4 linked regions of the Homo sapiens genome follow. The protein of the gene in region 2 purifies or fractionates together with the protein of the main gene of each other region. This does not show direct contact. Each region holds a gene or a part of one and is shown on either strand. Other genes may lie near its edges.

The links.
Region 1: the proteins of EPHX1 (region 2) and ABAT purify together in Homo sapiens (affinity purification with mass spectrometry; one large-scale study listed by BioGRID and IntAct). This does not show direct contact.
Region 3: the proteins of EPHX1 (region 2) and CHD8 fractionate together in Homo sapiens (co-fractionation; one large-scale study listed by BioGRID). This does not show direct contact.
Region 4: the proteins of EPHX1 (region 2) and CDC27 fractionate together in Homo sapiens (co-fractionation; one large-scale study listed by BioGRID). This does not show direct contact.

What each region holds. Positions count from the first base shown.
Region 1 is NC_000016.10:8,677,525-8,681,116, forward strand, and holds part of ABAT (4-aminobutyrate aminotransferase, mitochondrial isoform 1 precursor), read left to right. Parts: intron 1-3,592. UniProt on the Homo sapiens protein: Catalyzes the conversion of gamma-aminobutyrate and L-beta-aminoisobutyrate to succinate semialdehyde and methylmalonate semialdehyde, respectively. Can also convert delta-aminovalerate and beta-alanine.
Region 2 is NC_000001.11:225,828,901-225,836,954, reverse strand, and holds part of EPHX1 (epoxide hydrolase 1), read right to left. Parts: coding exon 8,043-8,054; intron 5,177-8,042; coding exon 4,996-5,176; intron 1-4,995. UniProt on the Homo sapiens protein: Biotransformation enzyme that catalyzes the hydrolysis of arene and aliphatic epoxides to less reactive and more water soluble dihydrodiols by the trans addition of water.
Region 3 is NC_000014.9:21,388,200-21,396,253, forward strand, and holds part of CHD8 (chromodomain-helicase-DNA-binding protein 8), read right to left. Parts: intron 7,694-8,054; coding exon 7,618-7,693; intron 7,154-7,617; coding exon 7,099-7,153; intron 6,921-7,098; coding exon 6,713-6,920; intron 6,287-6,712; coding exon 6,078-6,286; intron 5,997-6,077; coding exon 5,277-5,996; intron 5,056-5,276; coding exon 4,907-5,055; intron 4,611-4,906; coding exon 4,308-4,610; intron 4,055-4,307; exon of another isoform or gene 3,952-4,054; intron 3,748-3,951; coding exon 3,634-3,747; intron 3,608-3,633; exon of another isoform or gene 3,444-3,607; coding exon 3,264-3,443; exon of another isoform or gene 3,211-3,263; intron 2,865-3,210; coding exon 2,748-2,864; intron 1-2,747. UniProt on the Homo sapiens protein: ATP-dependent chromatin-remodeling factor, it slides nucleosomes along DNA; nucleosome sliding requires ATP. Acts as a transcription repressor by remodeling chromatin structure and recruiting histone H1 to target genes.
Region 4 is NC_000017.11:47,138,629-47,146,682, reverse strand, and holds part of CDC27 (cell division cycle protein 27 homolog), read left to right. Parts: intron 1-2,700; coding exon 2,701-2,800; intron 2,801-4,246; coding exon 4,247-4,454; intron 4,455-4,657; coding exon 4,658-4,830; intron 4,831-7,791; coding exon 7,792-7,944; intron 7,945-8,054. UniProt on the Homo sapiens protein: Component of the anaphase promoting complex/cyclosome (APC/C), a cell cycle-regulated E3 ubiquitin ligase that controls progression through mitosis and the G1 phase of the cell cycle.

The sequences.
Region 1 (3,592 bases), on a different chromosome or scaffold from region 2:
CAGGTCTAGATGAGGGGTTCTCATTTTGGGCACTGTTGACAGTTGGGTCAGAGGATTCTTTGTTGTGGGACTCCCCTGTGTATTGTAGGATATTCAGCAGCGCCTCTGGTCTCTACCCACTAGATGCCAGTGACACTCCCTACCCCATGAGTCATGTCCATCAGAAATGTCTGCAGACATTGCCAGATGTGCCCTGGGGAGCAAAATCATCCTTTTCCTTCGCTATTGAGAACTGCTGGTCTAATACATGGCCTTAAACATAGTTGATACTTAATATAAAACAGCTTCCTAGCTGAGGCGGGTGGATGGCTTGAGCCCAGGAGTTTGAGACCAGCGTGGGCAACATGGCAAAACCCCATCTCTGTAAAATACAGGAAAAAAAAAATCAGCTGGTCATGGTGGCATGCGCCTGTAGTCCTAGCAACCTGGGAGGCTGAGGTGGGGGGATTGCTTGAGCCCGGGGAGGTCGAAGCTGCAGTGAGCCATGATCACACCACTGCATTCCAGCCTGGGTGACAGAGTGAGACACTGTCTCCAAAAAAAAACAAAATAAAAACCAAAAACAGCTTCTTTCTTGCACAAGCTCCTCGTTTTGGTTTCTGTGTAATGAGGAGAAGGAGATGTGTCTAGCTGTGGAGCCTTCCAATATTAATAACAATTTTTAATTTCTCACATTTACACAAGACTTTCTTGTCTGGTTTTTGTTTTTCTCTTTAGTAGAGACAGAGTCGGGTGGTCTCTAACTCCTAGGCTTAAGCGATCCTCCCGCCTTGGCTTCCCAAAGCACTGGGGTTACAAGTGTGAGTTACAACCAAAGCGCTGGGGTTACAAGTGTGAGTTACAGGAATAAGCCACAGCACCCAACCTACACAGGACCTTATCATCTCCAAAGCACTGTTGTGTCTATGACACTGTTTCTCACTCTACAGATAAGCAAACTAAGCCTCACAAAGGTTAAAAGACTTGTCTAAGACCATCACCCGCTTCTCCACCAGGCATCAGAGAAACATCCATGCCAGAAATTGTTTGAGAAACAACTGAGTTCTGGGCCTTCTTCAGATTAGTTATCAGGGTCTTTCGAAACTTCAATGGCATGCTCTTTGGTCCAGCAATCCCACTTTGAAAAATCTCACACAGAAATGCTCACACTTGCACTGACATAACATAAAAATGTCCATGGCAGAGCTTGCAACACTGGTATGGGAAGGGATTACAGTATATGCATTCATGTGGGAGAATGAGTAGATTTTAGATGAATGAGGTGGATCCACATTCCTGACCTTGAAAGGTTCCTGAGTCATATTATTTAGTGAAAAAGATAAAGTCACAGAATCAACATAGCCAGTATGATCCTATTTTTTTTTAAATGTAAATATGCATGAACATGGATAGTTAGGGAAGTGGGGAATTAAAAGGACCTAGATAGTATGTATGTATGAGAACATATTCCTGGGGGAAGAAGAAGAAAATAAATCTCCGCCAGCTTCCCATGCATTAAAAATGAGCAAAGTGGGCTGGCCACCTTGTCTCACGTCTGCGATCCCAGCACTTTGGGAGGCTGAGGCGGCAGAATCACTTGAGCCCAGGAGTTTGAGGCTGCAGTGAGTTGTGAGTGAGCCACTGCACTCCAACCTGGGCAACAAAGGGACACTGTAAATAATTAATCATAAGATAAAAATTAAAATGAATAGAGCACAACCCACAGAGGTTGAGAGACTTGCTAACACCAGAAGTTGCCAGTGGTGAAATTCAGCTTTGAGTTTGCTGATAGTTACGGGGCCAAGAGACAGGAATCTGAGGCTCATCTCAGCAGGCCAAGCCTCCTTCCTTACTGTGGGGAAATTCCTTCTCTGAGCACCTAGAGGGATCCTGGTGTCAGACTGACCTCACCTGAATCAGGCTTCCACCCACGTGATGACCTCAGGCCAGCCACTTTAACTCTCAGTGCCTCATTTCTCTAACTTTAAAATAGCTAAAAGGCAAAGGAAAAAACATGAAAGCCAAAAAAAAAAAAAAAGGTAGAAGGAGGAGGCAATAGTAGAACCTCTCTCATTGGGCCGCTGTGAGGATTACATAAAACCATGTGTTCCGACCCCCAGTACTTAGTAGGTGCTTAATTAACACGAGCCCTGGTCTCTCCTGCCTTTTTCTCTGCTTGCCTGCTCCTTGCCAGGATGCAGAAGACAAAAGCCTCAGAAAGGACAGTGGGGGCTCCTGAGGCCCCAAGAATGCTTAGCAGGCTGAATCAGTTGTCCTCACTTCTTCACTTTGCCCTCTGATCCACCATGACCACTCTGCTGCAGGAGCTTTTAACAGAAAGCCTGGGAGAGCATTCTGAGGGGGTCTGTGCTATAGCTCTTCCTCCCTGGGGTCTAACCATCCTTGCTTTCTCTAGACACTCCACACATTAAACTGTCTTGCCCGTTGCAGGGATGGGATGGCATCATGTGGCCTCTAATTACACATCCCTTCAATAATAAGATTGACTCTCCAAGGGCAAGTTTTCCTCCTCCTTCAAAAGCTATCTCACATTGCGTCTTTTACAGGTAGTCTTCCCCGACCCTCCCCCACCTCCAGCCAGGAAAACCATTTCTCCTCCTCCCAACTCCTGTCATCCACATCCTAGACTTCCTGGGTCTGCCACATCCTATTCTTCCTGGGTCCATCACATCCTAGATTTCTTGGGTCCATCACTGTTTGCTGGATTTCTTCCCAATCCATAATTGCCTGGAAGCAGCCATCACATCCATCACATTTATTCTTGTGTCTTAAATGCATAGCACACTTCCCTATGCACACAGTAGATATTCAAGGAGCATTGACTGAATGCAGAAAAGTATTTTTTAAATTGGGGTAAAATACACATAACATGAAATTGACCATTTTCATCATTTTATTTTTATGTATTTTTTTGGGGGGCAGGGGGAATCTTGCTCTGTCACCCAGGCTGGAGTGCAGTGGTGTGATCTCGGCTTACTGCAACCTCTGCCTCCTGGGTTCAGGCAATTCTGACTCAGCCTCCCAAGTAGCTGGGATTACATGTGTGGGCCACAACCACGCCCGGCTAATTTTTTTGTATTTTTAGTAGAGACGGGGTTTCACCATGTTGGCCAGGCTGGTCTTGAACTACTGACCTCAAGTGATCCGCCTGCCTCGGCTTCCCAAAGTGCTGGGATTACTGGCATGAGCCACTGCGCCCGACCTCCATTTTTTGATTATTATCATTGGGGTCACTGTGGCAGGTGTGAAGCAATACCACATTGTGGTTTTGATTTGCATTTCCCTAATGACTGATGGCATTGAGCATCTTATGTGTTTGTTGCTTATTTGTATATTATCTTCAGAGAAATGTCTACTCAAGTTCTTTGCCCATTTTTGAATTGAGTTGTCTTTTTGTCTTTTTGTTCTTGAGCTGTAAGAGTTCTTCTTTTCTCTTTTTCTTTTTCTTTTTATTTATCTATTTTTTTTTTTGAGACAGAGTCTCACCCTGTCTGTCACCCAAGCTGGAGTGCAGTGGCATGATCATAGCTTACTGCAGCCTTGACTTCCCAAGCTCAAACAATCCTTCTGCCTCAGTCTTCCAAGTAACTGG
Region 2 (8,054 bases):
ACACTTTTTATTATATGGCGAGAACACTTAATATGGGTCCTACCCTTTTAACAGATTGTAAGTGTCCAACACTGACGGCGCTCTGCTGTACAGCCCATCTCTAGGATGTATTCGGCTGGCAGGACTCAAACTTTACACAGCAACGATCAGCAATGCCGTTTCCCCTATTCCCCAGCCCCTGACAACCACCCTTCTCCTCTCTGCTTCTGCTGAGTTTGACTATTTCAGATTCCTTCTATAGGTGGAATCATGCGGTATTTGTCCTGTCCCTGGCTTACTTCACTTAGCATTATTTCCTCAGAGTTTATTCATGTTGTCACACATTGCAGGATTTCCTTTTTTTTTCTTCTTCTTTTAGAGATGAGGTCTCACTGTGTTGCCCAGGCTGAAGTGCAGTGGCACAATCACGGCTCACTGCAGCCTCAACCTCCCAGGCTCAAGTGATCCTCCCACCTCAGCCTCTCAAGTAGCTGGGACTACAGGTGGGCAACACCATGTCTAGCCTATTTTTGTTATTTTTTTTTGTAGAGAAGGGGTCTCGCTATGTTGCCCAGGCTGGTCTCAAACTACTGGGCTCAAGCCATCCTCCCACCTTGGCCTCTCAAAGTGTTGGGATTACTGGCGTGAGCCACCACACCCGGCCAGGATTTTCTCCTTTTTAAAACCTGGATAATGCTGGTATCTACACACAACAAAATATGAGCCAGATTTCCTCAGTTTTTCCCCTGATATCCATTTTCTGTTCCAGGATCCCATCCAGGACTCACACACCACTGAGCTGTCATGTCTCTTTAGACCCTTCTTGGCTGTGACAGTTCAAACTTTTTAAAAAGACTTAGAGAACATAACTTTTAACAAAAATAGAACCATACATACATTCTATTTTAGAATCTCTTTTTTTTTAACTTAACAATGTATCCTGGGTGTCCTCCTATGTTGCCAAATTTACTCCTATTCTAAAGGACCAAGGCCAAGAACAGGCCTCCAGCCCCGGGCAGGGTGCCAGAACCACACATGGGTAAGTCCACGATGAATTCAATGCTGGAAACTGGCTCTTTTGGAGCCGTTGTACCTGAGGGAGGTTTTGTACCATAAATGCCCAATGTCAGCTGGGTGTGGTGGCTCACACCTATAATCCTGATACTTTGGGAAGCCAAGGTGGGAGAATTGCTTGAGCCCAGGAGTTTGCGATCAGCCTGGGTGACATGGTGAGACCTTGTCTCTACTAAAAATGTAAAAAAAAAAAAAAAGGAAAGAAAAAACAAAGGCCGGGTGCCGTGGCTCATACCTGTAATCCCAGCACTTTGGGAGGCTGAGGCAGGTGGATCACGAGGTCAGGCGATCAAGATCATCCTGGCTAACACGGTGAAACCCCGTCTCTACTAAAAATACAAAAAATTAGCTGGGCATGGTGGCGGGCGCCTGTAGTCCCAGCTACTCGGGAGGCTGAGGCAGGAGAATGGCGTGAACCTGGGAGGCGGAGCTTGCAGTGAGTCGAGATTGCGTCACTGCACTCCAGCCTGGGTGACAGAGCGAGACTCCGTCTCAAGAAAAAAAAAAAAAAAAAAAAAAGCCTAGTGTGGTGGTGCATACCTGTGGTCCCAGCTACTTGAGAGGCTGAGGTGGGAGGATCGCTTGAGCTCAGGAAATTGAGGCTGCAATGAACTGTGATCACACCACTGCACTCCAGCCTGGCTGACAGAGTGAGACCCTGTCTCTAAAAAAAACCCAGTCTCATGAAGAACCCTGAAAGGGTCCAGTGGGGTAAGGCTGGCAGCTGCCAGGATGGAAAGGGCCCTTTACTGCCTCCTGCCTCTGGGCCTTTGAACATGCTGTTCCCCTTTCTTGGACCACCTTCCCCACACACCTGGCAAAGTCCCACTCATTTCAGCTTAGATGCCACCTCCTCCAGGAAGCCTTCCCTCACATTCAAAGGAAGATTGTGGGGCTCATGAAGCTCCCAGAGCCTCCTCCTTCAGAACACCGCCACTATGTGCTGGAATTGCCCCTGAAGAGCCTATGAGCTGTGAAGGAGGGACCCTGTCCTCTCTATGCGTCCCCAGCCCCAGCAGAATGCCTGGGTACAGCAGGCGCCCTGTTAGTTTCTGCTGGATGGACACTGAAGAGCTGGGACAACACAGGGATCCAAGTCAAACTCAAGGAAGCCAGGCAATTTCGTGCCAGGAATCCAAACAGGAACCTATGGTAATTGCATACAGCAGTTTGGCTGGGATTAAGTGGCTTGGATCCTCTTGTTAGGCTCATAATAGAAGATATCAAATTACTGTAAAGAATACAGCAACACTCAAGAGAAGTCCAAATTTGATCCAAAAAATCATTCCAGATTTTTTTTTTTTTTTTTTTTAGTGTTCTTGGCTGAGCTCCAGGATGGGCTCTAGTTCCAGGACACACACCACTGGGATTTGACTTAGCTTTTCTCTGGCTCATTCTCCCACAGGCCTGGCCTGCTTGCATCAGAACAAGGATGTTTGCTGCCCTGGCACCTCCAAGTCGAGGTTTCCGTCCATCCTTCCTTTCTCCCTTTTTTTTTGAGATGGAGTCTTGCTCTGTTGCCAGGCTGGAGTGCAGTGGCGCGATCTCGGCTCACTGCAACCTCCGCCTCCCTGGTTCAAGCAATTCTTTTGCCTCAGCCTCCCGAGTAGCTGGAACTACAGGCACGTGCCACCATGCCCAGCTAATTTTTGTATTTTTAGTAGAGACGGGGTTTCACCATGTTGGCCAGGATGGTCTCGATCTCTTGACCTTGGGATCCACCCGCCTCGGCCTCCCACAGTGCTAGGATTACAGGTGTGAGCCACCGCACCCGGCTTTTTTTTTTTTTCTTTTTTTTTTTTTTGAGACAGAGTCTTGCCCTGTCACCCAGGCTGGAGTGCAGTGGCGCAATCTGGGCTCACTGCAAGCTCCGCCTTCCGGGTTCACGCTATTCTTCTGCCTCAGCCTCCCAAGTAGCTGGGACCACAGGCGCCTGCCACCACGCCCGGCTAATTTTTTGTATTTTTAGTAGAGACGGGGTTTCACCAAGTTAGACCAGGATGGTCTCGATCTCCTGACCTTGTGATCTGCCCGCCTTGACCTCCCAAAGTGCTGGGATTACAGGCGTGAGCCACGGCGCCCAGCCTGTTTTTTTTTTTTTTTTTTAAAGACAGAGTCTCATTCTGTCGCCCAGGCTGGAGTGCAGTGGTGTGATCTCAGCTCACCACAAGCTCCATCTCCTGGGTTCACGCCATTCTCCTGCCTCATCCTCCCGAGTAGCTGGGACTACAGGCACCCGCCACCACACCTGGCTAATTTTTTGTATTTTTATTAGAGACAGGATTTCACCGTGTTAGCTACGATGGTCTCAACCTCCTGACCTCGTGATCCACCTGCCTCAGCCTCCCAAAGTGCTGGGATTACAGGCGTGCGCCACCGTGCCCAGCCTCTCTCTCTTTTTTTAAGAGATGGGGTCTTGATCTGTCACCCAGTGCAGTGGTGTCCTTGTAGCTCACTGCAGCCTTGAATTCCTGGGCTCAAGCAATCCTCCTGCCTCAGCCTCCTGAGTAGCTGGGACTACAGGTGCATGCCACCACACCCAGTTAACACTATAATTTCAATTTCCTTTTTTTAGGAACTTTAGTTTATCTGACTGACCAACATGTCTTTCATACACTTTAAGTAATTCCTAGAATTTTAACAAATTAAAATCTTCACTGTTCCTTGAAAAGGCCAAATTATCTTAAAACATTAAAAATAAGATTCCTAACATGTACAATTTCTTCAATATAAAAAATTAACAAGCTGGGCACAGTGGTGCTCGCCTATAGTACCAGCTATTCAGGAGGTCTGAGGCGAGAGGATTGCTTGAGCCCAGGAGTTCGAGGCTGTGGTGAGCCATGATCACGCCTGTGAATAGCCGCTGCACTCCAGCCTGAGCAACACAGCAAGACCTTGTCTCTGAAAAAGATTAATTGTATGGCAACCCACAGAGTGGGAGAAAACATTTGCAAATATAAGAGATTTTATTCAGAATATATAGAGAACTCCTAAACCCTAATAAAACACCCAAAAAATGGACAAAAGACATGAACAGACATTTCTTCGGAGAAATTACAAAGAATCCAATAAGTACCGCATAAAAAATGCTCAACATCAGTAATCATTAGGAAAATGCAACTCAAAACCACAATGTGATACCATTTCATACCCATTAGGATGACCATTACCGAAAAAAAGAAAGGAAAAAAATATTGGCAAGGATTTGGAGAATCGGGATTCTGAGGCATTGTTGGGTGGGAAAGTAAAATGGTGCAGCTGCTGCGGAACGCAGTATGGCGGTTCCTCAGAAAATTAAACGCAGAATTACCGTATGATCCAACAAGTCCACTTCTGAGTATAGATCCAAAAGAACTGAGAGCAGAGTCTTTTCTTTCTTTGAGATGGAGCCCAGGCTGGAGTGCAGTGGCGCGATCTTGGCTCACTGCAACCTCCGCCTCCTGGCTTCAAGCAATTCTCTGCTTCAGCCTCCAGAGTAGCTGGGATTACAGCTGCCTGCCAACACACCTGGCTATTTTTTGTATTTCTAGTAGAGATGGGATTTCACCATCTTGGCCAGGCTGCTTGAACTCTTGACCTCGTGATCTACCCACCTCAGCCTCCCAAAGTGCTGGGATTACAGTTCTGAGCCACCCCACTTGGCCTGGGTCTAAATCTCATCTCCATCCTTCCTCTCAAAGATTGCCACATCATTGGACTGGATGGTGCATTTCTTTGGTTTTTAAATTGCATGTATGTGTTCCTGCCTAGCTCTAAAGATGGACAGATTTGTTGTGACTGCAATATTTTTGCATTTAGTAAGGTTACAACGTATAAGTACATCTCAGTCACCTATAATTGGGTTCTGAATCTCTCCAACTTTATCTGACTGTAAGTCACATTGTGGAAGAAGGCTGTTCTCATGACATACATCCCTCTCTGGCTGGCGTTTTGCAAACATACCTTCAATCTTAGTCTTGAAGTGAGGGTATCTGTTGAGAATCTCCACCTGCTTCTTCCAGTCAAATTCATTCCGCCAGTAGGAGATGACTTTCTTCAGGTAGTTGGAGTTGAAGCCATAGTGGAAGCAGCTGTCCTCCAAAGGTGGGGTGAAACGGAACTTATCGATCCTCTGGTGTAAGTCCTGGAGCAAAATTCAGGACCCCAAGTTGAGAGGGATGGGAAGGACAGAGCACAAGAGCAAAGTCTGTTTCCAGAAAACACAGCAAACCCTGCAGCCACAAGATACTGCCCTCTGGGAGTGGCAAGGCAGTTTCCCACATCACTGGCTACTCCCAAAGCGGATGTGTTCTTCACTTCTTCCTTCTTCACTGTAGACTTCGCATTTCTTTTTTCTTTTTTCTTTTTTTTTTTTTGAGATAGGGTCTCACTCTGTTGCCCAGGCTGGAGGGCAGTGGCGTGATCTCGGCCCACTGCAACCCCCACCTCCCAGGTTCAAGCCAGTCATGCCTCAGCTCCCAGAGTAGCTGGGATTACAGGTGTGAGCCACCATGTCCGGCTAATTTTTGCATTTTTAGTAGAGACGGGGTTTTGCCATGTTGGCCAGGCTGGTCTTGAACTCCTGGCTTCAAGTGATCTGTCTGCCTTGGCCTCCCAAAGTGGTGGGATTACAGGTGTAAGCCACTGCGCCCAGCTCATCTTTTACTCTTTAAGTGTATACACGATACTCATCTTTAATTTACCCAGGCGTCTCTACAGCGGGAGTCGGCAAACTTTTTCTGTAAAGGGCCAGATAGTAAATATTCTAGGCTTTGCAGGCTGCAGTGACTCCACTGTCTTCATAGTGTGAAAGCAGCCACAGCCAATGCACAGATGAATGGGGGTGGCTGTGTTCCAATAAAACTTTATTTATGGACAGCCATAGCCAATGCACAGATGAATGGGGGTGGCTGTGTTCCAATAAAAATTTATGGACACTGAAATCTGACTGCTATATAATTTTCACGTCACAAACTATTATTCTTCTTTTGATTTTTTTCCCCCTAACTATTTAAAGAGGTAAACACTATTCTTGGCATGGGCGCTGTGCTAAAACAGGTAGCAGGCTACATTTGGTCTATGGGCCTGGTTTCCTGACCCCTGATATACAACATTGAATGATACATTATAACTGAGTTGGGATAAAAATTACAGGCCAGGCCCAGCACGGTGGTTCACGCCTGTAATCCCAGTGCTTTGGGAGGCCAAGGCAGGTGGATCACTTGAAGTCAGGAGTTCGAGACCAGCCTGGCCAACATGGCGAAACCCCATCTCTACTAAAAATACAAAAATTAGCCAGGCATGGTGACAGGTGCCTGTAATGCCAGCTACTTGGGAGGCTGAGGCAGGAGAATCGCTTGAACCCAGGAGGCGGAGGTTGCAGTGAGCCAAGATCGCACCACTGCACCCCAGCCTGGTGACAGAGCAAGACCCTGTCTCCAAAAACTAAAAAATTTACAGACCAGGAGAGAGGGTGCAAGTCTCATTGGCATGTATTAGGCTAAAAGGCCAGCCCCAGAGGGAGGAAGTTCATGTCAGCTTAGAGAGCCTCTCAAGCATCACCATTCCCAGGCTTCTTCCCAAGTGTTTCAGTTACCCCCAAACAGATTTTGGAAATCTCAGACTCCCTTAGGAGTCTAATTCCCTAAAGGAGCTTTCCTTAGGGCTCAGCCTTGGCCCTAAATAGCAAGGCTGCAGCAAGCAAGTCCTACCCAGGGAGCCTCAGCCTGGTTGCTCTTGGGTTTAGCCCAGCTTCTGCTTTTAAATCTCTTCCTCCTTGGAACTCTCATGACTTTTATCCATGCTTTTTGTGACATTTATCCTTATGCATCTGTTTCTTTTTTTGAGATGGCATTTCACTCTTGTTGCCCAGGCTAGAGTGCAGTGGTGTGATCTTGGCTCACTGCAGCCTCTGCCTCCTGGGTTCAAGGGATTCTCCTGCCTCAGCCTCCCGAGTAGCTGGGATTATTATAGGTGCCCGCCACTATGCCCGGCTAATTTTTTGTATTTTTAGTAGAGACGGGGTTTCACGATGTTGGCCAGGCTGGTCTTGAACTCCTGACCTCAGGTGATCCACCGCCTCAGCCTCCTAAAGTGCTGGGATTAAAAGCGTGAGCCACCGCACCTAGCCTATCTTTATTTATCTTTTAGTCTACTTTTCTTTGTGCACATTCCTTTTCTCATTCACTGGACTGTATGCTGTTGGACGGAAGGGGCTGTCTCTTCTCCCAAGCACTCACTGGGCCTGCACACAGTAGGTGCTCAAAACCCACGGAATGAAAGAAAGGATTGGCAGGGCCATGCCAGGCCTGCCTACCGTCCTGTCCCCCACTCAAGCCTTGCTCCTCCCCGAGAATGCATTCTCAGTTCACCCCACCTGCCCAGTCACCTCCTTCCTGACTCTATCCCTGTGCAGAGGAGGGGCAGCAGCTTCAGGATTAGATTGGACTTCAAATCCTTCCGCATGTTAGCTAGGCCGCCTTGAACGAGTTGCTTTATGCCCCTGAGCTTCAGCTTCTGCATCTGCAGTTTGGGAACAACAATCCTCACCCCGCGGGATCACCGTAGGGATTGAATGTGACCAGGAATGGCTGACACACAGCCGGTGCCTAACCAGTAGCATCCCTGCCTTCTCAGTGCTTCCTGGGTCTCTGACGGGAACCTGCTCACTTTCTCCCACAACCTCACTCCCAAGGCTTCAGGCAGGGCATAGAGGAGGTGATGACAGCTGCTTTCTGTGACCTTTGATACAGGTTACCCCATCTCCTGCCTGAGCACTGCTGGGCCTTGGGTAGGGAAAGGAGAAGAGAGAAAGTGGGAGGGCTGGGCATCCCTCTCCAAAGCAACCTGCACCTGCCCAGCAGAGGAAAAGCAGACTGAAACACACTCCCAAGTAGGATGGACCATTCCCAAGCCCCCGTCCCCTCCCGCATCTGGCCTAAGACCCAACCCCTGTCTTCGACACACCACCCTCTCCACTGCCCAGCCCGGCCCGGCCCAAGGTGCCTTACGTGGATCTCCTC
Region 3 (8,054 bases), on a different chromosome or scaffold from region 2:
ATTAATTTTGTTAAAAGATATTCCATGTGGTTATATAGACACATAAATATATGTGTATGCACATAGTCAGCCTTCCATATCCATGGATTCAACCATCTGTGGATTGAAAATATTTGAAAACAACAAGAAACTAAAAAATAACAAGAGAAAATACTACAGATTTTAAAACAATACCGTGTAACAACTATTTACATAGTATTTATATTGTGTTAGGTATTATAAGTAATCAAGAGATTAAAGTGTATCAGAGGAAGTGTGTCGGTTACATGGAAATACTACATGATTTTATTTATTTATTTATTTATTTTTTGAGGCAGGGTCTCACACTCTATTGCCCAGGCTGGAGTGCAGTGGCATGATCATGGGTCACTGTAGTCTCAGCCTCTGGGCTCAAGTGATCCTCCTGCCTCAGCTTCCACATAGCTGATACTAGAGGACTGCACTACCACGCCCAGCTAATTTTTTGTAGAGATAAGGTCCCACTGGGGTCCCCAGGCTGGTCTTGAACTCCTGGGCACAAGTGATCCTCTTGCCTCAGCCTCCCAAAGTGCTGGGATTACAGGTAAGAGCCACCGCACCTGGCTCTACACCATTTTATATATAAAGGACTCGAGCATCCATGGATTTTGGTATCTGCAGGGGTCCTGGAACCAATCCCTCACAGATACCAAGGGATGACTGTATGTGTATAAAGATTTCTATAGAAGATCAAATGGGGGAATAATTAGATAAGGCAAGTATATACAAGTGCTAATCCATTTTAAATGACTCTATGTCATTTAAAACAATGATTTATGTATGCTTTAAAAATACAACTATTGACCAGGCGCTGTGGCTCACGCCTGTAATCCCAACACTTTGGGAGGCTGAGGCGGGTGGATCACAAGGTCAGTAGTTCGAGACCAGCCTGACCAACATGGTGAAACCCCGTCTCTACTAAAAATACAGAAATTAGCTGGGCATGGTTGCACACACCTGTAATCCCAGCTACTCGGGAGGCTGAGGCAGGAGAATCACTTGAACTTGGGAGGTAAAGGTTGCAGTGAGCTGAGATCAGTCCATTGCACTCCAGCCTGGGCAACAGAGCAAGACTCCGTCTCAGGAAAAAAAAAAAAAAATTACAACTATTGGCCAGGCACAGTGGCTCATGCCTGTAATCCCAGTACTTCGGGAGGCTTAGGCAGGTGGATCACCTGAGGTCGGGAGTTTGAGAACAGTCTGGCCAACATGGCAAAACCTTCTTTCTATTAAAAATACAAAAATTAGCTGGGTATGGTAGCATGCGCCAGTGGTCCCAGCTACTTGGGAGGCTGAGGCAAGAGAATCACTTGAACCGGGGATGCAGAGCTTGCCGTGAGCTGAGATTGTGGCACTGCCCTCCAGCCTGGGTGACAGGGCAAGACTCTGTCTCAAAAAAATAAAAGATTAAAAAACAAATACAACTATTGCAGAAAGTAAGGTAAGCATAGCCAAGAGAAACTTTTGCAGTTGAAATTTGGTGGAAAGAATAAACTGTGGGTACTTAGTCCACCAAATGGCCTATTATCCATCATAAAAGTATAAGTAAATTTGAAAATATAGAATAACTTAATGGACAAATTTATTATGAATTACAAAACAGTTTCCTCTGCTTTTTCCATTACTGACATATTATTAGTGATTCTCAACCTTTATATATTGGGAAATCTCATGACTATTTTCCTTAGAAGACCTCTCCAAACACTTCTAAAATATATAGAATTAGAAAACTTAAGGCCGAGTGCGGTGGCTGAAGCCTGTAATCCCAGTACTTCAGAAGGCCAAGGCGGGTGGATTACTTGAGGCCAGGAGTTCCAGAGCAGCTTGGCCAACGTGGTGAAACCTCGTCCCTACTAAAAATACAAAGAATTAGCCTGGCCTGGTGGTGCACGCCTGCAATCCCAGCTACTTGAGAGGCTGGGCAGGAGAATGGCTTGAACCAGGGGAGGGAGAAGTTGCAGTGAGCTGAGATGGTGCCACTGCACTCCAGCTTGGGTGACAGAGTGAGACCATGTCTCAAAAAAACAGAAAACTTAAGAAATTGCTTTAAAACCCTCACTTTTCAGGATGTAAAAACTGAAGAGGTTAAAGGATTTGTCCAAAATCCCTTAGTTATTCAATAGAAGAACAGAGTAAGATCTGAATGTTCTCTCTAACCCATCTTACTAATTCTTAAATTTTCATATGCATCAAGTACTAAAGTTAGTTTTTAGAATGTTATGCTCTCCTAGAGATGAAGATACCACAGGACTGCAAAAATACTGATAAAAATACTCTGGGCCAGGTGCAGTGTGGCTCAGGCCTGTAATCCCAACACTTTGGGAGGCCGAGGCGGGTGGATCACGAGGTCAGGAGTTCAAGACCGGCCTGGCCAAGATGGTGAAACCCAATCTTTACTAAAAATACAAAAATTAGCCAGGCGCGGTGGCAGGTGCCTGTAATCCCAGCTACTCAGGAGGCTGATGCACGAGAATTGCTTGAACCCGGCGGGCGGAGGTTGCAGTAGGCCAAGATTGCGCCACTGCACGACAGCAGAGTGAGACTCCGTCTCAAAAAAAAAAAAAAAACCCCAGAAAACTCCGGTTTCCTTATTGGTGAACTCAAGATAATTCTTCACACAAACAAACATAGGAAAAAAGATAAATAACATTAGTCACAATCATCATTGAAAGACTTGTAATCTCACATCTAGTGTGGGAATAGAGTGGTAATGCTGCAATTTCTCTCACCTTTTTCCCATTTCTAGAGTTAGCTGTCTGTACTGGTTCCATTCCCAAACAGTTCAATTCTGCCTTATTATTTTTTTTACATCTTTGCCACTTCTGTTTTCTGCGATCCTCCATATACTGCAATAGAAAAAATCAGTTATCCTAGAGGAATAGAAATCTTCTCTGGAGTAATTATTAAAGTACTAGTGTCTTTTGTTTGATAATAAACACTTATTACATAGATAAAGGATTCATCCTAGTGGAAAACTGCCATTAAGTGGGATCTCTCCAAAAAATATTAGGTGGTTTATATAATAGTTCAATAGTAAATATTTGCCTAGCACTTAAAGTACTTCAACATTATTTTATTTTGGGCATCACAACAATTGTGAGGTTGGAAGACTGGGTATTATTAATTATTACCCTTATCTTGCAGATACAGAAACGATGATACAGTATGTCATGCTTTCTCTTTCTCATGCAGCTTAAATACCAAAGGAATGACTTTAAATCTTGCTGGATGGGACTGCCACTCACCGCTAGAAATCGGGGATCAACAGCAAACTCTGGATGACCCTGTAACCACATCTCCAGTTCAGCCCGGCGAGGGGCATCCTCACCCACCAGCAAAGTACCATCCACCTTATTGATGACAGGGATCCGGGTCTCCAGGTCCACATCAAGGTGATTAGGCTCTTCCATGCACTCCACCTCCAGCTGCAAACCCAGAATCCACCCCCATGAGCACATACTCTTCTTTGGGGGAGGGAGGGAGGGGGAGCAGGGCCAATGGTAGTCATGAAATGACTCTAGTATTTTCCATTCCCCCAGTCCCACTGCCTTCATCAATTATTGGGAATAAAAAGACAATCTAATCGTCAGGTTAAAGACTTTCTCTACCACTCACCTCTACTAGCTTCTTTCTGTTCCCCTTCTTCTTATGAAACAGTGGATGTCCATCTCCCATTACTCCATTCGCCATCAACTTGTGCTTCTGGAATGTTAACTTCAATCCTTCCTCCTAGGAAGACAACCCACCCACCCAAGACATCATATGGTACATGTTTTTCAAAGTAAAGATTAAGCTTTGAGGGATGTGGGCTATAGGTCATCCTCTTGCCCAATGATGGTGAGAAGGAAGGCCATCTGACTAAAGGGTAAAATTAGAAATACAAGAAAACATACACACTTTTTCCTTAGAAAGATTTCACTTCTTCACCTAGTGCCCCTCAGCATTTACGAGAAAGAGTTTATTTCAACAACACCCAAGTTAGGGTAAAACTCCCTACCTGGTGTCTCCGTATTAGCATGGCAACTCATCACAGGGGCAAAATCCTGCTATTCCTAAGCATACTAATTTAAGAAACTTTTGTTGAATATTAATAGGATTAATAATCAATAGGGTTCAATAAGGAAAACAACCAGGAAAAATGATTCTTCCTAAATGGATCTTTGTAAGCTCTGTTTTCTCATTTTTAAAATTAGCTAACCAAATGAGTTTAGTAACCTATTAGTAAAATTAGTTACAGCAAGGATTCCAGCCTCCTTCCCCACTTCCCAATGCCCAAATGCTGAGCTTACATCTTTGATTTGAACTGTAAACTCCTTTTCATCCATGCCTCGGCGAAGTTTGGTGAACTGGGCTGCCGCTGTGCTGACTGCAGATGCTTCCTCCTCTGCCATGGAAGCTGCACTACTACTTCGTGGTGTGGGGACTGGAGAGTCACCATATTCTCCAGGAGTCAATGAGGGACTGTCTAGCAAGTGGTTGCCTGGCCCCAAAATTCCTCCTGTTACCATTTCCTGGCTCCTACGGCTAGAAGGCCACTTCCCTGAGAGTACAGCCTGGCAGACGAGGTCAATACGGTTTATCAGGACACGATCCTGAATGGGGAAAGAAAGAAATACCATTTTAAGAGTCTGAGTACTAGCTGTGTGATCCTGTGATACTCAATAGTGCCATCACTACCAGGATGGGTAAAAATCATAAGGCAGAAAAGAGGAAGTTAATACTATTAAGATTCCTAAGTCAACTGGGAAGTTTCCTGGAAAAAAAAAAAAAAACTTGCAGCAATAAACACAATTTTAAAAATCCAGAACCATATGTTCCTTTTTCCCCGGATATACTGTTACACTGTATTTCTGGACTCTACATGTCCAGGGATGAGGCTGTTTGTTACCTTGGGCCACTCAGAGGCTCTTTGTCTTTCCTGCAGTAGCAGAAGCTCAGGGGTCATTTGTTCTCCATCTTCATTTGGGAATCCATCTTGGGACATAGTGAGGGACAGGAGACTCTCTTCATCATAGAGCTTTGAGCGGGACTGGTCAGCTGGTAAGAGAGCCCATAGAATGTGTGAGAAAAGATGGAAGAATAATGTCATATGGTAATGGTATTATATGGGCTTTGAATAAAGGCCCAAAGAATGGCACTCTTTTGACATTTTATCAAATCAAAATCCAAATCTCTCTCAAGAGGATGCATTTAGAAAAGGGAAAGAGAAGAGAGGGGGAAATAGGGAAGGGGGCCAACAGCCTGTCACATGCACTCACTTAGCTTCTCTTCCTTCTCATCCTCACTCTCATCAGTGCTGGAGCTGGAGCTGGATGAGGATGAGGAAGAAGAAGAAGATGGTGACAGCTTGCTCAAGTCCAGCTCAGAGTCCGAATCATCCTCATCCTCCAGTTTGACTGGTGGAACACTCCGGGAAACCAGAGGGGTAGTATCAGAGGGGGATACTCGCATCTCATAGTCTTGTGGGGTTGGTCGGCTCCTGGCCACCACCTCGTGCTCTAGCTTTAAAGTCAGACTCTCCAGACTGGGGACCTGGGTAGCTGTCTCCTCGGGTGACTTTTCAACAGGAGCATCTGGGCGCAGGGGCAGTGGTGAGGCAGTGCGTGAGGTATACTGCTGGTGCAGCAGTGGAGTAGAGCAGCGTGACAAGGATGGAGCTGGTGCTCCTGCTTGATGGTTCTGCATATAATTCATACGGGCAGCCAGAAAAGAGAAGTCTGGGTCCTGCATGATGTTGCAGTCTGTTTGGCTCACCCCATGGCGGGCTGCCCCTCTTAGAAGCTCCCCATCATGCCGAACAGGCTCCCACCATTTGGGCAATTCAGGACCAGGAGGCTGACACAATGCCAGCCGATCTTCCAAAAGGGGGTGGCATAAAACTTGTTCCCGTAAGCGCCGAAGCAATTCTATACGGTAGAGAGTCCGTGAGGCTCTCTCCTCAGTGATGGGCTCAATGAACAGGTTAGGGTCGGGGGGTTCTGCAAGAGACAGGAGTAGAAGAAATTAACAGAGTTGCTTCTGTTGGCATCCATCCTCACCCACTCTGCAATCTTGCTTACCATCTCCAGCTGCTGGGGGAAGGCGGCATACTTGGCGGCACATGGCCACAAAGCCATGGAAGTACTTGGTAAGGCTTTCATCTGTCTTTTTGTCTAGTCGAGCAAAAGTGCGGAAGCGATCCCAATGGAACTGCATGGTGTCAGGGTCATATTCCACACCAAACGTAGACACCACTCGATAAAAATCAGTTTGTTCACGCCTTGTCCATCTACAAAAGGAAAAGTAGGGCAACAATAATCAGAAGAACACATCAGAAGAACACAAGAAAACTGGTTATTTTTTAATGTGTTTTAGAATATCTGAAAACACAAAAATTGAAAGTAGACGCAAAAAAAAAAAAAAAAAAAGGCCCAGAAGAGGTAGTGAGAGGTACTCTGTAATGAGTAAGAATTACAGAGCCAAGGGGGAAAAGACACAGACAAATATCAATGAAAATGTCTACACAGGAGACCTACCTGAGAGTTAATGATTACTGCATGCAAGTGAGGTTTTAATTTCTACAGGTTTAACTACCCAAGGCAGAAAAGATGGTCCCTCTGTAGAGAATTCCAAATAAATCCTTCCTGAGATGGCTTTCAGTATAGGGACCATAACTGAAAACACAGATCAGCACAAGTTCCCAGCTATATTTTACCGTTGTTGTTTCTCCCGCCGTGCAATTTCTTTCAGCTTGAAGGCTGCTTCACAACGCCGCCTTCGCCGGTCCCCACGTTCTGCAGCCTCTATCTTCATTTGTTCTCTCTTGTAGCTGCGCTGATACGCTGTTACTAGACGCCGAAGCCTAGCTGTTAGGGCAGAGCCCGGAGGCCAGAATAAATGGCCTGGCTGTTGGGTCACCTGGGCTGTGGAAAACAAAGTAGAATGAATAGGAAGTATAGCAAGGGTAGTAGAGGCAATACTAGTATTTTAACCCACCCAAAGGCAAAGCTCTTAGAAATCCCAGGATAGGACAGAATTCAGTGAATAATTCCCCAACCCACCACCCCACACAGAATTATACTAGTTGACCTAGAAGTTTACCTTCATCTCCATCAATCACTGAGATCTCCTCATCCATCATCATCAAGGGATCACCCTAGAGAAGGAGATCCACCCAATAGGATGGAGCGGGGAGGGAAAGGGGGGGAAGTTGGCACTCTGAAATCACTTTCTTGTGTGTGTCCTTCTATGGCACCAAGGGATCAAGAAAAACTTCTAAAGAAATATATCCCCACAAAAACTTGGAAACAATCAACTAAAAGAACAAGAAAGTAGAACCTGAAAGGTCAGTTCCTATTAACGACTCAAAGATAATAGAAGTCAGGAATTTATTAGTCAAATAATATCTTTCAGTGTCCAGCTCCTCCATAAAGTTATCCCTGATCTCCCCCTACTGGCATTACAGTCCTTTCCATTAATATTTTCTATTCTCAAATGGTATAATTCATTTTCCATTTTGTATTATAAATTAACCAATATATTTCAAGATTCAGAGAATGGTTGAAGACTTAAAACTATTTAGTAATAGAGAAAAGTGAGACTCAAATGAGAATTCCTTACCTCATCATCTTGGTCCTTTGGGGGACCTTGGAGTGGTTTATATTCAGGATCTTCACAATCTTTATCAAAGTCAACCCTAAAATTATGGAGAGGCACAAGAAAATGTTAATAATGTATCTTCTATCACTAAGGGAACCTAGGATGAAGACCTAGCCACACATATATCCAGCATGAAATAATCTTTATTAGTATTATTTTTGAGACAGGTCTCACTCTGTCGCCCAGGCTGGAGTGTCATGGCCCTATCACAGCTCACCGTAGCCTCAACCTCCTGGACTCAAGCGATCCTCCTCCCTCAGCCTCCTGAGTAGCTGGGACTACAGGTGTGTGCCACCGCACCCGGCTAATTTTCATATTTTTTTAGAAGTGGGGTTTTGCCATATTGCCCAGGCTCATCTCAAATTCCTGGGCTCAAATAATTCACACGCCTTGGCATC
Region 4 (8,054 bases), on a different chromosome or scaffold from region 2:
CCCTTCAGGTCTTACCTTTTAAATTTTGTCCAGACAAAAGTAGCCTTAGTCTGGACTAATCTTGTCCCACCATTGAGGAAGTACCCTTTGAGTACTCTCCTCAAAAACCTGTTTAGTATGAGGTTTCTTCACTCTGCCTATTGAAAGTATGAGCTATTCCCAGCTTGGAGTGAGATCCAGTAATTATTCTGTCTGCTTCTTTTCAGTAATACTTTCCCCAGCTTTGGGTAGTTTCTTCACTATAGTACTATAATGTAATTCTGATGCTAACTACCCAAACTTAGCACAGACACCACAGGTTAAGATCACAGTCCCCAACAAGAACTGTCTGAACTGCCCAGTTGTAGGTTCTGGGTTCCCCAGGCCACCCACATTTCTGACCAACTGGCTACAAATTTAAGGATTCCTACTACCCTCTTACATTCAGTAATTTGCTAGAGCACCTCACAGAGTCCAGGAAAGTGCTATACTTAATGATTACAGTTTTATTGTAGATGACATAATTAGGAGATCCATAGGATTAGATATGGGAGGGTCCTGATACAGAGCTTTCATGTCTTCTTTCTGGGCTCACCCTCCCAATGCATCAGTATGTTTACAAACCAGGAATTTGAGCCAAGTTTTGGTGTTCAAAATTTTTATTAGGGTTTTTAAATTATGTAGGTGTGATTGATGGAATCATTGGCCACATGATTGAACTCAATTTCCTTCCCAGAGGAGCTCAGGCTGGTGTTGCTGGCTCAAAGCCCCAGCCCTCTAATCACATGGTTGACTTTTTTTTTTTTGAGACAGAGTTTCGCTGTTGTCGCCCAGGCTGCAATGCAATGGCACGATCTTGGCTCACTGCAACCTCCACCTCCCGGGTTCAAGTGATTACACTTGAACCCGCGAGTGGCTGGGATTACAGGCACCCGCCATCATGCCCAGCTAATTTTTGTATTTTTAGTAGAGATGGGGTTCCACCATGTTGGCCAGGATGATCTCGATCTCTTGACCTCGTGATCCGCCTGCCTTGGCCTGCCAAAGTGCTGGGATTACATGTGTGAGCCACCATGCCCGGCCACATGGTTGACCTTTACAGCACAGCCAGCACCCATCCAGAAAGTATCTAGGAGTTACTTCATTAGCATAAATTCAGGCACGGTCCCAGGAGCTCATAATGAATAACAAAGACATCCCTGTCACTTGAGGAATTCCAAGGACTTAGTAGATCTCAGGAGCCTGGGACGTGGACCAGACAAATTCTTTATTATATAACACTCAAACACCTACACTGATCAATTTTCAACTGAAGACTCTAGGGAAGCCCTCTGCAGATCTTTGTAGGTCTCCTCTTTGTAGCTCTCTTCTCTCTGGTGCTCTGCCTTGCAAATTCTGGCTGCTTTGGCTTTCTCAAATTCTCAACATTTTCTTTTCAACACAGTGGGACCACTGAGCTCTATTTTGCATTCTTTTTTCCTGCAAGGTGGCCCTAGAACTGTCCTCGGAAATGTTTTGCCTATTGTCCAGTGTCTGAAAACCATTGTTCCATATATTTGGTTCAGTTTGTAGTTATCTGAAATGGGAGAATAAATTTATTCCATTTTACTCTGTCATGACTAGCGGAAGTCTGTTCTTTCTATTTAGAAAGTTTTTTTAGAGATGATTAGAATGGCATAGTACTTTTAGCTAAATCATCCAAGAAAGGTTGTGTGTCATTTGCTCCATATGAAGTGAAGTCTAATTCTGAACTTTGGAAGCCTTTCGTTATCAAACTCCTAGTTTATCAGATGCAGATTAAAAGGATTTATGTGTGTGTGTGTGTGTGTGTGATATACACACACATGCATATACAGAGGTATCTGTACATATTACATATGTACATATCGTAAAAGATGAAAATATATATCTTTTTATTTTCTGAAATTCTTTGACCCAGACTCAGGTAGCTAGTAGGATTTCCCATAAATTATAAAGTTTAGATAGTTTAGTCCACAAGTTTACCCACTGTCAATTCTAGATTGTTTCAGATTTTAAGTTTGCTTGCTAAGATTGAAATTCTCATATCTCAGGGTTTGCCTTTAAAGTAAAAATGTACAGAGGCTCCTTTCGCTCTAAAGAGAATAAGCCTTTGATATAGCTGTTTGAATTTACAGGGAAATAACTTCTCAAATATTAGTAGTTCTAGTGGTATTTACTTGTTAACAAATACCCCACATTTAGACTATCTTTGCCCAACTGTCTTTTCTTTTTTCTCTAACTTGTTGTAGTTGCAAATGAAGGGTAAAAATAATTGATTTATAGATGTGCTTATCATTTGTCGATCCAGAGTTTTATGAGGATTATTTTTAGTTCAAATTAAGAATTTCAGAGAGAGTGAAGATCTATGCTATAATCTTTACTATTTTGTAGTAACGAGTCATTTTATTTTTATTTTTTTATATGAAGGAAAGTTTATTAAGGATTATTGACTTATGATCACAAGGTGAAGTCCCACAAGAGGCCATCTGCAAGCTGAGAAGCAGGAAAGCCAGTCCGAGTCCCTCATTTTTAAATACTGTGTTTTCATAGAGAAACCACGAAAAGAACTGATCAAATTCATCAACTTTAGAGTACTTATATAATTAATGTATATTTTTAAAATATACCCAAATTGAAACAATGGTTAATGGTCATAAATCAAGTAAAATATTAATGTCTTCCTTTATAATTTTTTTTTAGTACAACACCTCAGGTATTGAGCCCCACTATTACATCTCCCCCAAACGCACTGCCTCGAAGAAGTTCACGACTCTTTACTAGTGACAGCTCCACAACCAAGGTAATTTAAAGATTTCTGTATGTCACATTTACTTAATGCTTCGCCTGCTAACATTTCTGTTCATTGATGACTCCATTCCTAATAAGTTAACAAAGAGACTATTTCGAATTTTAAAATGTTTTAATTTAGAGGGCCATCTATGATTTTTGTGAAGTTAATTAGTCCTTTGGTAAATATTATATAATATTCTTTTTTAATTAAAAAATTTTTTTTCTCAAGTTAAAAATGACATAGGAATAATCTTGAAATGGCAAAATTATAGGAATGGACAACAGATCAGTGATTATTAGGAGTTAGGCCTCTAGGGAGGATGTTACTATTAAATCATGGCACAAAAGAATTGCATTGTGGTGGTACAACAGTCCTGTATCCTGATTGTGGTGGTTGATTACACAGATCCATTCACGTGATAAAATTTTATAGAACTATGCACACACATACACACACACGGGTTTATATAAAAACTGATGAAATCCATGTAAGGTCTTTAGCTGATAATATTGTACTAATTTCAGTTTCCTGGGTATGATGATATACTATGGTTATGTCACATGTTATCATTTGCAGAAGAGTGAGTCTAAAATTATTTGAAAATAAAAGTTAAAAAAAACTGGAGACCCGGCGGACGCAGTGGCTCACGCCTGTAATCCTAGCACTTTGGGAGGCCAAGGTGGGCCGATCACTTGAGCTTAGGAGTTTGAGACCAGCCTGGTCAACATAGCAAGACCCCATCTCTGAAAAAAAAAATTAGCTGGGATGGTAGTACTCTTTGATCCCAGCTGCTTGGGAGGCTGTGGTGGGAGAATCACTTGAGCCTGGGGAGGTCAAGGCTGTGGTGAGCTCTGATTACATCATTACACTCCAGCACGGGCAACAGAATAAGATCCTGTCCCAAAAACAAAACAAAGGCCGGGCACGGTGGCTCATGCCTGTAATCCCAGCACTTTGGGAGGCCAAGGCAGGCAGATCACCTAAGGTCAGGAGTTCGAGACCAGCCTGACCAACGTGGAGAAATCCAGTCTCTTCCAAAATAAAAATTAACCGGGCGTGGTGGCTCATGCCTGTAATCTCAGTTACGCGGGAGGCTGAAGCAGGAGAATCGCTTGAACCCGGGAGGCAGAGGTTGGGTTGCGGTGAGCTGAGAATTACATCTACTTATTTTCTTACTTTTAAATAATAAATGAGAGTTTGATATACTTTCACAAGAGGGCTACACTTAATGCTGACACACCTTAGTCACTATTAGTTAATGTAATTTATGTTCAGAATTACTGTGTTTAAAATTAAATGACTTTGAAGACCTTTGTTTTTATAAACTCTCTTCTGAAAAAAATATAGAATTAATCAAGATTGTACATTTATTTTATATCTAATACTGGAGAAAGGGCTGAGGAGAAATCTAAAATACATGAGTATAACAGGTGTGAAATTTCTTCCCTTTTACAGGAGAATAGCAAAAAATTAAAAATGAAGTTTCCACCTAAAATCCCAAACAGAAAAACAAAAAGTAAAACTAATAAAGGAGGAATAACTCAACCTAACATAAATGATAGCCTGGAAATTACAAAATTGGACTCTTCCATCATTTCAGAAGGGAAAATATCCACAATCACACCTCAGATTCAGGCCTTTAATCTACAAAAAGCAGCAGCAGGTCTGTTTTAAATGCTTAATATTATCTTTGTATTTTATTATGTACTTATTTTAAGTAAATTTCTTTATGTTCATTACAGTACCTTCATTGTTTTTTATATAGATGTTGGAATTTTTAATAGATTAGTTTGTAATTACCTTTTCTAGAGAAGCAGACTAGTTTATTGCGTTTTTTCCTTTGTTTACTATGTTGTTTTCTCCTAGAAGGTTTGATGAGCCTTCTTCGTGAAATGGGGAAAGGTTATTTAGCTTTGTGTTCATACAACTGCAAAGAAGCTATAAATATTTTGAGCCATCTACCTTCTCACCACTACAATACTGGTTGGGTACTGTGCCAAATTGGAAGGGCCTATTTTGAACTTTCAGAGTACATGCAAGTAAGTATAGAAAATGGTTATATATGCCTTTCTAGAGATAATTTCAATTTCATTAAAATAAATGCCCATGCTTAAGAAGGCTAGATCTAAAAGATCAGTATTTATTATGTAATGTCTATATATTTATTTTGTCAGTATTTATAATTTATAGATATAGTTCTTTCTTGTGTTAAGGAGTAATTTAAATTCTTTGCAACTTCTCGGAATAGGTTTATAGAGACCCAAGTCATCCAGACATTCTTACGTAGAGTGTGTCCTATTCAGTTGTGTCTGAAAATACATATTTATATTTACCATGTAATAGGATTTATTTATTTTTCTGCAATATACAGAGTTAATTACTGGGGTGAATTTTTGACATCGAATATGTTTTATAAGCTTGAAGAATGCTATAAAGAAAATTGTGCTGAATTGAGGACACAATGTCTTTAATACAAGGCTTTTTACTCTTTGGATTTTAATTAAATTTGTTGCTTAAGTTATCTGTCTATACCAGAAAAGGAGAGAATGATTAACCTAAAGCCAAAGAAAATTCTAATTCCCAATTTATATTACCCCTTAGTTCTTCCCAAAGCATTTTCTCCACCCCCAACTTAAAAAAAGAAACCTTTTAGAAACCTATATATTAATAAAATATCTCTAATATGGATTAAAGTTGATATGATTCGTTTTTTGCTTAATTTGCTTTCAGTTCATTTATTCAATATATATCTCTGTGCATATGATATCCTGGACTCTCTTCTAGACTCTGTATTACAGCTAGTCAGACAATTTCTTGCCTCTGTGGAGCTTACATTCTAGCAACAGACAGATTATAAGCCAATAAATGTATAAGAACAGGTAGCAATAAGTCATGAAGAAAAATGAAGCATGGTGAGGAAACTGGGAGACAATGAAGTATGGTGTTTTTGTTTTTATGTACTCAGAGGGAAGGTTACTCTTCCCTTCATGATCCATGCAAAGATCTAGGGGAAAGGTGTTCTTTCCCACAGGGAATACATACAGAGGATACCTATTCATATAATTTAATTTTGAATAGTACAGAACAGAGAGTTGAAGACAGAAAGTCTTATTCATTGCTACAAAACCCATGTTTCGATTATGGTCCTTTACTGGTATGTAGCATATACACAGACAGGCAAGAGCTGTGTTCGGAAAAGCCATTTAAAAAATTATTTCTAATTTATTGTTTCACAGCTACTTTAACATAAATGAATTTTATTGTTTCCCCTAGTTATAGTGGTGACCCAAATATTTAATTAAAGAAAGCCTCTGTTTCAACTTAATTTCTGAGTTTTTTTCCCATTTTTCTTTTTGTCTATGCCATAATCATTTTTCAGAGGAAGCAACAGATTCTGAAAACTTTGAAACCAAAAGGTACCTACCTATATTTGGCTGGTAGGTCTTTTATCTTGTTACCATGCCTGAATGAAAAACTTGGCCAGGTGTGGTGGCTCATGCCTATAATACCAGCACTTTGGGAGGCCAAGGAAGGGGGATCACTTGAGCTCAGGAGTTGGAGACCAACCTGGCCAATGTGGTGAGACCCTGTCTCTACAAAAAAATGAAAAAATTAGCTGGGTGTGGTGGCACTCACCTGTGGTCCCAGCTACTTGGGAGGCTGAAGTGGAAGGATCACTTGAGCCCTGCAGGTCAAGGCTGCACACTTACCTTTATAACTTTTAAGAGATTGCAAGGAAGTTACAAATCGTTAAGCTATTCCTATATATCATATGACCACTTCTTGGAATTAAGCACTCAGTTTTAAAATGCTCTTATTTTCTGTCATACTCATTTCATTAAGAATAGTCCAGATATTCCTTATTATAAACTAAACTGTGAAAATTTCTTTTCCTTTCTTTTTTTTTTTATTACCTAGACCTTTTCTGGCAGCTGAGAATTTTGAACTTGGTAAATTGATAAACTAGGAAACTGATTTTATATAACCTAAATCCTCAAACTTTAGAGGGAGAGAAACACAGTTCTGGGAGCTGTGAATGTGATGAGGAAAAAAATTGATGAGGCAGCTGAGGAGAGACCCTGAAGTCAAGAGAGTGCTGCAAAGGAAAGGATAATTAATAGGTAGGGCCTATGATTCCTAGCAGACACAATATTGGTGTGTATATTCAGGGCTCAATAGGATTTATAACCATAGGATTGATAGCCAGCTTAACCTGTTTCTTCCCTCTAAATTTTCTGGCACAACCTCTCGGTAAAAATTGTTCAAAAATAGATTTTATGTTACAGAAATCATTCTTCCATCATCTTTCCTAAAAGAGTTATTCTGGCCAGGTGTGGTGGCTCATGCCTGTAATCCCAGCACTTTGGGAGGCCGAGGCGGGTGGATCACAAGGTCAGGAGATCGAGACCATCCTGGCTAACATGGTGAAACCCTGTCTCTACTAAAAAATACAAAAAATTAGCCAGGTGTGGTGGCAGGCGCCTGTAGTCCCAGCTGCTTGGGAGGCTGAGGCAGGAGAAGGGCGTGAACTCGGGAGGCGGAGCTTGCAGTGAGCCGAGATTGCGCCACTGCACTCCAGCCTGGGCGACAGAGTGAGACTCCATCTCAAAAAAAAAAAAAAAAAAGAGTTATTCTGTAATGCCATTATTAAAACTTGGAAATGAGGTTTTTGAGAAGGAAATATTGACTTTTCTTTTGAATTGTAGCTTTGTATAGATTTCTCTTCGGTCTTTTTGGTAGAAACTCAAATTTCCTTTTCAGAGTTCATGTTCTTACCATGGCTTGTATATAAATACTAGGTTGACTGTCAATATGGTTACATCACTATTTGACCTGCCATAGTAGATTGCTGAATTTGTCCTTGTGTTAATACTCATTCACATAAAAACCATAATACAAGGCAGCATTTAGATCCTGTGAAGATAATGACCAGGGCTTTCCCTGTGTATATATATAAATTGTATCAACTTGTTTTCTCTTACTAGTTTTTTTTATTTCAGGCTGAAAGAATATTCTCAGAGGTTAGAAGGATTGAGAATTATAGAGTTGAAGGCATGGAGATCTACTCTACAACACTTTGGCATCTTCAAAAAGATGTTGCTCTTTCAGTTCTGTCAAAAGACTTAACAGACATGGATAAAAATTCGCCAGAGGTATGTTAACCAAAATACTTTGCTTATATAGTTACCTTTTTGATCACCCTCAACAGATAGAGATGAACCAAGCAATTCAAACACTATTTAGTGTCACCCACGCTTATTTC